Linked DNA regions of Homo sapiens: region 2 is linked to region 1. Evidence: fine-mapped expression QTL. A gene starts in region 1. The other region holds a variant in brackets. All regions are shown on one strand. Distances are between the middles of the regions.

The links. PIP is the estimated chance that this variant, and not a neighbour inherited with it, causes the effect. A credible set is the group of variants that fine-mapping cannot tell apart.
Region 2: its variant is the best candidate, but not a certain one, in a credible set for the expression of PLCL1 in monocytes after Pam3CSK4 (Quach 2016, PIP 0.53).

The regions. Positions count from the first base shown.
Region 1 is chr2:197,801,393-197,806,776 of GRCh38, reverse strand. PLCL1 (phospholipase C like 1 (inactive)) reads right to left here and starts at 2,184. Exons shown (of 6, transcript NM_006226.4): 1 at 1,438-2,184. The coding sequence starts at 1,677. It overlaps LOC105373828 (a long non-coding RNA gene), which reads left to right and starts at 2,231. Exons shown (of 4, transcript XR_001739850.3): 1 at 2,231-3,068; 2 at 4,958-5,039. RefSeq lists a silencer at 2,008-2,137.
Region 2 is chr2:198,105,686-198,111,069 of GRCh38, reverse strand. The region is part of intron 5 of PLCL1 (phospholipase C like 1 (inactive)); the gene reads right to left. Among named protein-coding and RNA genes, the nearest start is that of LINC01923, 270 kb to the left of the region's middle. The variant T/C (reference allele first, on the strand shown) is at 3,011.

The DNA of each region.
Region 1 (5,384 bases):
GACACCATGTAGTATCAATACAGTAGAATCCAAAATGTATGTGTTTCCTAATTGTGATGTTTTTTAAGTTTGAAAACAGTGTGCTTTCTGACCTGTGGGTTAAAAACAAAATAGTAATTTCCCTTTGTCCAAATTCACACCCAGAATAGAACACTCCTGTTACATAATCAAAAAGCCACAAAATAACAGAAACTACTACAAGCCATTTGTAATTACCACCCACTCTTCTTTATATATTATAGAAACCTCTCCACTGATTTTAAACTTCCATGTGTCAGTGTTGGGAAAAAGACTTTACTGGAGCCACATTCTGTGGTTAGTCTACCTAAGCTGGTGCTGGGAGCTTGCAACATGCGTGATGCACTGGTTACGCAGCTTAACCCTGAACAGAGCTTTTGAATATATTAGTGAACCCAATAAATTCAATAGTAAGTAAAAGTCCATCTTTCATTGTCATTGAGGGATGTGTGTGTGTGTATGTACACACACACATATATACTTACATATATACATACATACATATCGTTTTATACTGACTGCTCCACCAAAATCAATTTTAATCTGACATACATTTGATTGATTACTCACATGCATTTACACTGAGGCCCTTTTCCAGAGCCTGTGCGAGGGTTCTTTCCTAAATAACCTTACCCCAAAGTCATGCTCCCAAAAGAGGAAATCTCGAACAGAAGAAACAAGCCCCAAGTGGAAGGAAGATGGAAAGAGAAAGGGGAGGAAAGAGGTTTACAAATTCCTTGCCAAATGGATGGAGAGAAATTCTGTGAGGTGATTAGCGGGTCAGGAAGCGTTTTCCCTGGATGTGGTGGTAACCACAAGGACCAGTGATAATGCTTGGGGGATTGATTGCTTTCCGGTTGTGCTTTCTGCAGCGCAAAAACTCTGGGCTCTTGCATTGCTCTTTACTGTGATGCAGGGTCCACTTAAAACTCTGCCTCCCTACCGGGAAAGTTCACACATCTTGGGATTTCGGGATCATTTAAGTCTAGAGGGATTCTTTTTTTACACTTGAGAGTAAGCTGTGCATTTTCTTCATTGTATGGGAAAAGCTAACCCTTCATTGGAAAGCAATGCACAACCATCCGGTGGGTCTGCATTTATCCAGAGTTCTCCCTTCCTCCCTCCATCAACGGTTTAGTGAAGCTTGCAGAGAAAATGAGGGAAAGCATCCATCAGAACGCAAAGACGCAGAGCGGAACTTTTCCTCTGCCGTCAGTGGGGAGAAAAAGTCACTTGTGCGTCTCGTGGCTGACAGCTGAGTCTGGGAACCTCCGGATAAGGAAGGAAGGTTTGGCGTTGAAGGAGGTGGGAGAAAACAATGCTGAGCCCGGATGCCTCCGGACACCGCACATCCTGCCCGGGTCCCTGACCCACCCATCACCCACAGCCACGCTCCCGGTGCGGCGCGGCTTTGCTTACCTTGATGATGCTGCTGCGCCGGGGGGTCGCCCGTGCTGCCTCCAGGAGGCCCGCCTCGCTGTCCGCTGGGGTCCCCGCGGCGCCTGGCAGTGCGACCCCGCTGCGACGGTCCCTCATCCGGCCCCCAGAGGCCGCCGTCACGCAGTCCCCGGCGGCATCCGGGCCCACTCGGGGGTCGTCTTCGCCCCCCGCCGCGTCGGGCGGCGCCGGATCCTCCCTGCCGGCCGCGCCCTCGGCCATGGCCTGGAGCGTTTAGGGCTCCCCGGGGGAAAGCGGGACGCCCGGCAGCGGAGTCCAGCCGCTAGGCACCGGTGCGCTCCTGCACCGGGAGGCGGCCCCGCCAGACTTTGTTTCACCGCCCAGCGGCGGCAGTGGCGGCGGCGGCGGCGGCGGCGGCAACTTTCTGGAGAGGGGACATCGCTCGGGCAGAGACGTCCTCGGGCTTCGGTCTAGGAGGCTAGCAGTCCGGCGGGGGACGGTGGCGGGAGTGGGGAGGCGATGTGAGCGGGAGGCAGAAGGAGAGGCGAAAAAGAGAGGGAGGTATCCGAAATGTGATGCAAACGCCGGCCCTGCGCCAGACAAAAGGCACCGGGCGCCCAGCCAGGCGGCCTCTGGAGCCCGGACGCCGGCGGCCCGATAGGGGCCAGAGCCGGGCGACTGCGGCCGGGCGCACCCGCCACCTGCCCGCGGACTGCGGCGCAGCGGTCCCAGGAAGTGCGGCGGCGGCGGCGGCCTCCACTCAGCTCTGTTGTGACAGGGAGGGAGACTTGTTTTGACAGCCCTTGGGGATTGGCAGGCGTCTGGGCCTCTTAGGAGCCTCGCCTCGCCGAGGGGGCTCGGCCCGACCAATCCTCACTGCGGAGGGGTGTGCCCGAGCGCGAAGAATGGAATGTGTTCTGCAACTGGGAGCCGGCCCAGCGGGGCTAATGTACTCGAGCCAGGGTGTACCCGCGCGCGCGCGTGTGCAAACCCGGAGGCGCTCCGTGTATATTTTAGGAAGTTTAGATTTGCGAAATGAGCCTGAGATGCAACAAAAATCCAGGTTGGGTGAAGGAGAGGGGAGAAAGAAACCTTCTTCTGCCAAACAAAGCAATTTGGAGGAAAGTGGGTATTGAGTATGAATGTCTAAGCGTTTGGGGTGACGGGGTGAAGCTTTGCGTGGTCACAGGTTAATTGCAGGCTCTCAGGCCAATTCTTAGAAGTCAAGTCCATGCAGAGATAAACTAGGGTTTACTGGGATCTTGGGGTTCCATAATTTGCTTCAGGTTCCAGGAAAGGATTCTAAGGTCATTCTGCAGTGTGAGTAAATATAACAAGGAAAGGGAGTCAGTGAAAGAGATGAGGGTGAAAGGAAACTGAACCAACTAAATCCCTCCGAAGACTGACTCTTAAAAAGCACAGATATAATCCAAGTCAGATAAATGCAGGTGGGGAGTTTAGTCTCTATCCTAAAACATTCCTATTTGACAATGGTTCAGCCTCCTTTCTCTATATAATCCTATATAAAAACATATTTTGCTCATTTCCAGTAAGCTAGCAACCAAGAAGGGAGAGATCTTTGGATGATGAGTTAAGTCACTGAAATTATCCACAGAATGCTCAGATGCAAACCATGGTCCTAAGGCTCCCTGGTAAGACAAAAGACTTGGCATTTTAATTTTAAACTCCTTTGATATTAGAATCTATATTAAACCTCACTTATAACATTACATTTTATCTTATTAATAATTTAATAATTTGAGATTTTACTTGTTCCTTAGTCTGGCTAACAGCATGAGAAATTATTCAGCATTTTAGACCAACAATTTGGTTTGAATCTCATAATTTTAGAGATATATGGGGATTTAGGGATCAACTAGGACATCATTTTTGTTTTACGGTTGAGACAAAGGCCCAGGGAGTCTTGTCTACTAGTTAGTGCAGGAGCCAAAATTAGAATCAGCCACCCAACTCCTCCGATAATCTCTTCACTACTTTATCTGTCTCCTCTGGGCTACAACCAGCCAGAACTGGCAGGGGCACTTGGGAGGTTTCAGATTTGACATTTATCAACTACTAGGGAATACTGAGAAGGCTTGACTTTGCCTTTTCTTTAAACATAAATGCAGCCTAGTAATGAATGTACTGTAGAGAGTAGCAGTGACCTCTGGTTTTAGAACCAACACCACCCTCTAGTGAGATTCTGAGAACTGCATCCATAACAGCAAAGGCTTCTTTTTCCCCCTCATCTTTAAAAGACAGGAGGGGTAACCCAACAAAAGTTTCCTTTTCAACAGGTATGCCTTTACAACGCACAGACTAGAGGAAGAAAATAAAGTGTACCCAGACTTAAAACAACCATACATGTCTTCCATCTCCTTTAGTTCAGGGAATTCCTGTCTATGCTATATAGGAAATATTTTTAATTGCTATCCTCAGAAATATATCTTATTTTAGGCTATCATTTTTTTCTTTGATATTCAACTATTATTACATTTGACTTCTGTCATTTACAGTTGTCAGTGCTTCATTTTTCTTTGTTACTCTAATAAAAGTCCCATTCTTCGGTTGTCCTCTGAAAAATGTAAAACTGCCTTTATCTCACTCATTATCTTGTTATAGGATATTAATGTCATTTATAAGTTCCTCATCCTACAGATTTGTGTACCATTATGATAATAATTTATTTTTACAAATTTTAAAATTAGCATCACTTTATTAACAAACATTCAAGGTCAGTGATTTAAAAAAAAACAGAGGCCAGAAAGTACAGCATATAACTTGCAAAATGTTGTATCTTTCAACTAGACAATGTCTAGTTGGACTCTTTTCTCTTCCTTGGCATCCTTCCCTCTCACCCTCATGTGAAAGTGCACACACACACACACACACACCCCTCTGATTCCTTTGCTCTGAGCCTCTATCCGTAAAGATTGTTGTCTAAATTACTCTGCTTTGATAAACTAGTTGGACCCTAATCTAGCAAGTCGTTTATATTGTTGTGTTCCAGCATAAGCTCAGAAGGCTTTTCCTGATACTCATGTTTGCAATTGAAAAAAAAAAAACCCCTCCTATGTACTTGCTCCTAGCCAGGAGCAGATTCTGCTTTGTGGACCCACTTCAAAAACTGAAAGAGACTAGCTAGTTTCAGTTAAGTCAGCAGCCATGGGCACATTCCTACCCCTGCATTAACAGTCCCTCTTTCCAAATAGCTGTCACCTACAATTCTTGCCTCCCAACCTTTTACCAAGTCATGGTGACAATTGCTAGATTGGCAGATTGGAATTTGGGGGTGAGCAGGGGTAGGAAGGTAAGATATGAATAATAGTAACGAGCAGGAAATTCAAATGTTACTACGTCAGAAAGGACTCTCTAACTACAAATCTCAAGTTGCCCCTACAAGCCTCAGTACATGTCAGTCATATTGTGTTTTGTCTTCTCACAGGATTTTATCACTGTGAACAAACTGTCTTTTCCGTGGAATTGTTTACTTACATATTCTGTTTTACTTTCCCCCTATCTCTGCTTCACTGAAATGTAGAATGCCATCTCCATGTGCCTAAAGACCTTGCGATTTTATTCATTGCTGTATCTCCAGCTCCCAGAACTATGTCTGGAACAGAGTAAGTGCTCAATAAATATTTATGGACAGAGGACTTTTGCAGTCCTGTGACTAAATAAAATAATCAATCTGATAAAGAAAAATGGTTCTGTCACTGTCTGCATGGTAGAACTTCTCATCCTCAAGGATCCTAGAATTCCATTTTAGAGCAGAAATCAGAACAGATCCACACCAAGCAGCTACAAATCTCAGAAGAAGGGCACTTATTAATTGGAATGACTTGAAATCTAGAATTAGACTGAAATACAACCAATAAGAACTAAGCAAGTTCTAGCAGTCCTGAAAATACCTAGACCAGACTAAAAGACTAGATATGTCAATATAGTCCTTCCAGCCAGGGAAGTCC
Region 2 (5,384 bases), 300 kb before region 1:
GAAGTGTCTGGCTGCAGCGTCTGTACACTTAATCACTTTGCCTGCTGTTTCTCAATAATTGATAGTATAATAATATCAATATTAAGGATGGTTTATTATTAATGCATTATTGTTGTTGTTTGGAGGTCTGTTTCTACACTTTGTAAATATACTTTTTTTTCTGAATACTCAAAAGGAATCCTAGCCTTTCTCTAGATTCTACAGCAACAACAGCTGGCAGATGCCAGAGACACCACTGGAAAAGTTCTCAATAGACAATGTGGATGATACTGGGCATGTTCCTTCTTTATATACCCTCAGGCAGCCCCCAAAGGCATGGTCACTATGTCTGTTGGAAGAGCCTGGTTTGAACATTCACACTAACAGCCCCCTCTCCACAGTATCTCATAGAATGATTTTAAATATCTATGGCCAGTAAGTGAAGGGTAGCCCACTTCTCACTCTCACTCAGCTTTCAGAGATGGATGCCTCTCCTCATACTTCTTTTCCCATTAGCCCATCATCTGTTTCCTTTCTTTTGTCTCTCAACAATGAACAGAGACTTCAAATGTGTTTTCAGGCTCTAATTGAAAGCGTATTTCTACACTGACATCCATGTAATTTCCTCTGTTGTAGCAAGATTCCCCAGAACTGTAAGGTCCTGAAATTCGGGAATTCAGTGAGGGAATCTGCCTGGGTTAGAAACATAACTACACACGGAGAAGTGAGAAGCTTCAATCTCTGCTCTTCCCACGGAAATTGAAAATGTTTTAGATAAAAGCAGAAGGAGCAAAGGCTTAAGTAGTGATAAAAAGCAAAAGCGTTATGGGGAAAAGTAATAGTCACATATACTAAACATAAATTTATAAAAGCAGCCCAGAATCATGGCACACATTGGAATGCATTAAATTATAAGTTGGAAATCTATCCAGGAAAAGTGTAAATACATATTTAATAGGAATGACCATTGAAGAGGTAATAGTTATATTCATTTTTTATTTATTGCCTGTTATTCAACAAGTAATCAATGAAAGTCATGAATAAATAAGAAGGGCAGCTACTTCTTAACCCTTTTATTTCTCTTTAAGCTCTAGTGATTACCTACTTCATAGTTTTTCCTTTGTAATAAAATATTTATTAATTATATTTCTTTAATATTATTTTTATATATCTCTACTTGATACTTCTCCAGCCTGCTAAAATTGATTTTTACATAAAACTTTTAAAAACACAAAGTAATAAAATTTAGTTTCTTAAAATAGCCAACAGGACAAGTTAGAAAAATATATATTGGGAAAGCTCACTAAAATGCTCCCCTTGGGTTCTTTCTAATTTCAGTTTTATAGATGTGATCACCTTTACAATGCAGTTCTTTTTGTACTTAAAAAGTCAAATCACTCTGGATAGAGTTCAAGACTTTAGATGAATTCCACTTCATTGCAAATAGCATTTTATCAGTGATATAGTGTAATTCCACATCTTGCTCCCAAGAGATCTTCAGAACTCTCATGAGTGAAACACTTCCAAAATTACTAACAATGTACTAGAATATGTTGGCTACGTAAGTGAAGTTGTAGTATCCCTTTCTGAAAGCCTTAAAAAACAGGAAAAATTTCCATTTTGAGATTTTAATATTATGTTAACAACCAAATGTCTATAGTTTGAATGTTTGTGTCCCTTCCAAAATTCATGTTGGAACTTAATCCCCAATGCAATAATATCAAGAGGTAAGGCCTTTAGGAGGTGATTAGTGCCCTGTAAAAGGGCTGGAGGGAACTAGCTAGGCCCTTTTACCTTCTTTTGCCTTTCTTTCCCTTCAGCCATTTGAGGAGACACCGTTCCTCCCCTCTGAAAGACGAAGCAAGAAGTCACCATCTTGGAAGAAGAGACTGTGCTCTCACCAGACACTAAATCCACTCCTGCCTTGATCTTGGATTTCTCAGCCCCAAGAACTGTGAGAAATAAATTTCTGTTGTTTATAAATTACCCAGTCTCAGGTATTTTATTATATCAGCACAAGAAGGACATCATGGAGAAGAAACAGAGGGAAAGGTCTTTTAACATGTGAGGGTGGAATGGAATGGAGTTATTTTGATCCAGTGATTGTCTTGAAAAGGTAGTGAGGACTGAATCATCCTATCATCCTAAATAAACACAATGGCTATGTAAGGAGACCAATTTCATGTACAATAGTGAAAAAGAAAGAAAGGAAGAGCAAATTGACTGCTACAGTTGGATATAGACATATGGCAAAAGTATGGAAAAATGCAAAAGATACGCTAAACAAGTCCCTATACTGGACCCACGTAGGTGCTAGAATATGAATTAAAGAAAAACACAAGTGTGGGATCTTCCAGAAGCACCTTGATTTCAGTTTCCTTGCTAAATACTAAGTCCTGGTCTCTGCAACAATTTGGACACTGTAATTATAATTCTTATTCATTATATTGTCGTTAGTCATTTTTCTTTCTGCAATTTTTTTCTCCAGCTTTTAATATCAGATAAATGTAATATTGAACTGCAGAAAACACTAAACAATTTATTTTTCAGTCTCAGCTCAATTTACTCTAAAGCCAATGCCCCTTTGCACCACTCCATGCTGTCAATCCCCCAACTTGCTGAGGGCACATTTCTCATTTTTTTCCAGCTCCTTCCTTACTTATTGGAAATTACACTGGAATTAAATATTTTTAGAAATACAAACCAACACATTTAACCAGAATTGGTTAATTCCCACTCCCTCTCTCTAGATAGTAGGGAATACTAGTCTAAATCATGTATAAGGAAACTTTTTCAGTAGGCAACGCAGAATTGTACCACAGCCTCCTAATTCAGTGATTATGTCTTTCCAGGATGGTTATTAATCATTCAACCAACTGGAAGCAAGGTAAATTGAATCTACTAAACTTATAAACAAAGAGCATTTATTAAAATACTTAGAGGAGCTCTGAAAATCAATAGCAAGTCTGGAGAATTAATTGGGAATCAAGTGTTTCAGATCTAATGCATAAGAACTAAAGGAAGAATCGTA[T/C]AGAAAAAGATATCTTCTTAGAGCAGCACCACTGGAATAAAAAGTCTCCAACAGAGCCCAGGCTCTTTTTCTCTCAGCTAATAATTCAAATTCAAAGGAGGTCATTTGTCCAGCTCTTGGGGAAAGGACACCAGATTAACAGGCCCCAAACTCAATGGAGGAGAAAAAGGAGCTATTGGAAGTGTGGAAATGTTCTCTACTCTTGTTTAGTAGTAGTCCACTACTCTAGTGCTCAAGCTGAAATACCAGCAGCTAGTATGTGAGTTATAATAATAGAAAATCAATTCTGTCTGAAAAGCTCTCTCTTGGAATAATTTGAACAGCATTTGCTCAATCACATCTAACAATCAGCTTCTGTTACTAAACCAAACAAAAACATTAAGAAATCTCTGACAACACTAAGTGGGCTTAAGTCAGAAGTTAACAAAGAAATAAAAATAACAAAAACCTCATTTCTCCATGTTTATCCTCACCTGGCAAACAAACAAATAACAGCTAACATATATGCTGTCTAGTTTTGTGCACTGTGACTTACATCTTTTGTATGTATTATCTCATTTAATTCTCACAAAATCTGAGATGTAGGTATTATTACTACCCTGAGGGAGATTATATAACTTGGCTAGTCTCACCACTATCAGGTAATCACACAGGGCCTGCATTCTTATTCCTGCACTAGGCTGCCTGGACCCAATGGGACTGATATGGTTTGGACCCAAATGTCATCTTGAATTGTTGTTCCCACAATCCCCACGTGTTGTAGGAGGGACCTGGTGGGAGGTAATCAAATCATAAGGGAGGTTATCCTCATGCTGTTTTCATAATAGTGAGTGAGTTCTCACAAGATCTGATGGTTTTATAAAGGGCTTTTCCACCTTTTGCTCAGCACTTCTCCTTGCTGCTGCCATATGAAAAAGGACATGTTTGCTTCCTCTTGCACCATGACTGTAAGTTTCCTGTGGCCCTCCCAGCCATGCTGAATTGTGAGACAATTAAACCTCTTTCTCTTATAAATTAATTACCCACTCTCGGGTACGTCTTTATTAGCAGCGTGAGAAAAGACTAATACAGGGACTCAGCCACATGGATGGAGTTTTAGAGGAGGCAGAACAGTGTAGTGGATAGAACCATGGGCGTGAGTTAAAAATTGCAGGCTGGCTGTTTACTAGCTGTGTGACTCCAGGCAAGAAATTTCAACCCCCACAAGCCTCAATTTCCTCATTTGTGAGATGGAGAGAGTCCTATCAGAGTCAGCATGTCATGTTGCAAGATTGCACTGTTGTGGCAAGGAAGAAAGGGGAAATGTACATAAAGTACCTAGCCTTGAGTGCTGATCACAAAATAAGTGCTGAACAATTGATGGCCATTATTAGTTACATGTCTGTCTCTCCTTATAGACTAGTCTTGGAGACCCAGGTAATCCTCCTGATATTTGTATCCCTAGCACCTTTCTGTGACAGGCACATTAACAAGCCCATATAAAATCTTCTGAACATAAAATGTTTATATCAGGGTACACACTGCCACATTATAATCTAGGGTTATAATAAGCACCTCTTTAACACTACAGCTCTAGGTCATCCCTGCTCCTTAAGCAAATGATGCCTTATCCATCCCCCTCCTCCACTGGACTCAGACTGCTAACTTCATGAGGTCAGGGTCTGTATCTCATGTTCTCCACGTATTCCCAGTGCCTAGCACAGAGCCCAATGCATAGTAGGGGCTTATCACTTGTGGACTGAATTTTTAATAGACATTTGTAATATGTCTTACAGCTAACCTAACACTTTCACATAAACATGTGCAGCATCTCTGCAGCACAGGTTAAAGACACAGGGTCTGGAGCCAGACTGCCTGAGCTTAAAATTTAGTTACACCATTTACTAGCTGAGCGCCCTCAGGAAATATACACAGACTTCCAATGCCTCCGTTTTCTCACCTGTAAAATGAGATTAATAACGATACTGAGTTGGTGTGAGTATTAAATTGTTAATTCATATAAACCTCATAAAACAGTACCTAGCACAAAATGAGTGTTCTTTAAATGTCAGCAATTATTAATTTTGTTTGTAGCTATTTTTCTCCCATTTAGCTGTCAAGAATATATTGTCTGCCTAAATCATTTCTTTTTTCATGTAAGAAAATATAAAAAGTGGCATATTTACTTCAAAATTCTAAAATTCATGTGCAGCAGAGAGCAAATCATAATCTCAAGAAAATGACTTCCAAAGTTATTTGCAAAAAGAAATGTATTTATAGGAACTGTTCTTAAAATAAAAATCCTCAATGGCCCTAGATATTTTGTACTTTGTCTCTTCAAAATCATTTGTGTTGGAATCTTCCCCAGAAGCATTTGTCATTATTCTTTCCACAA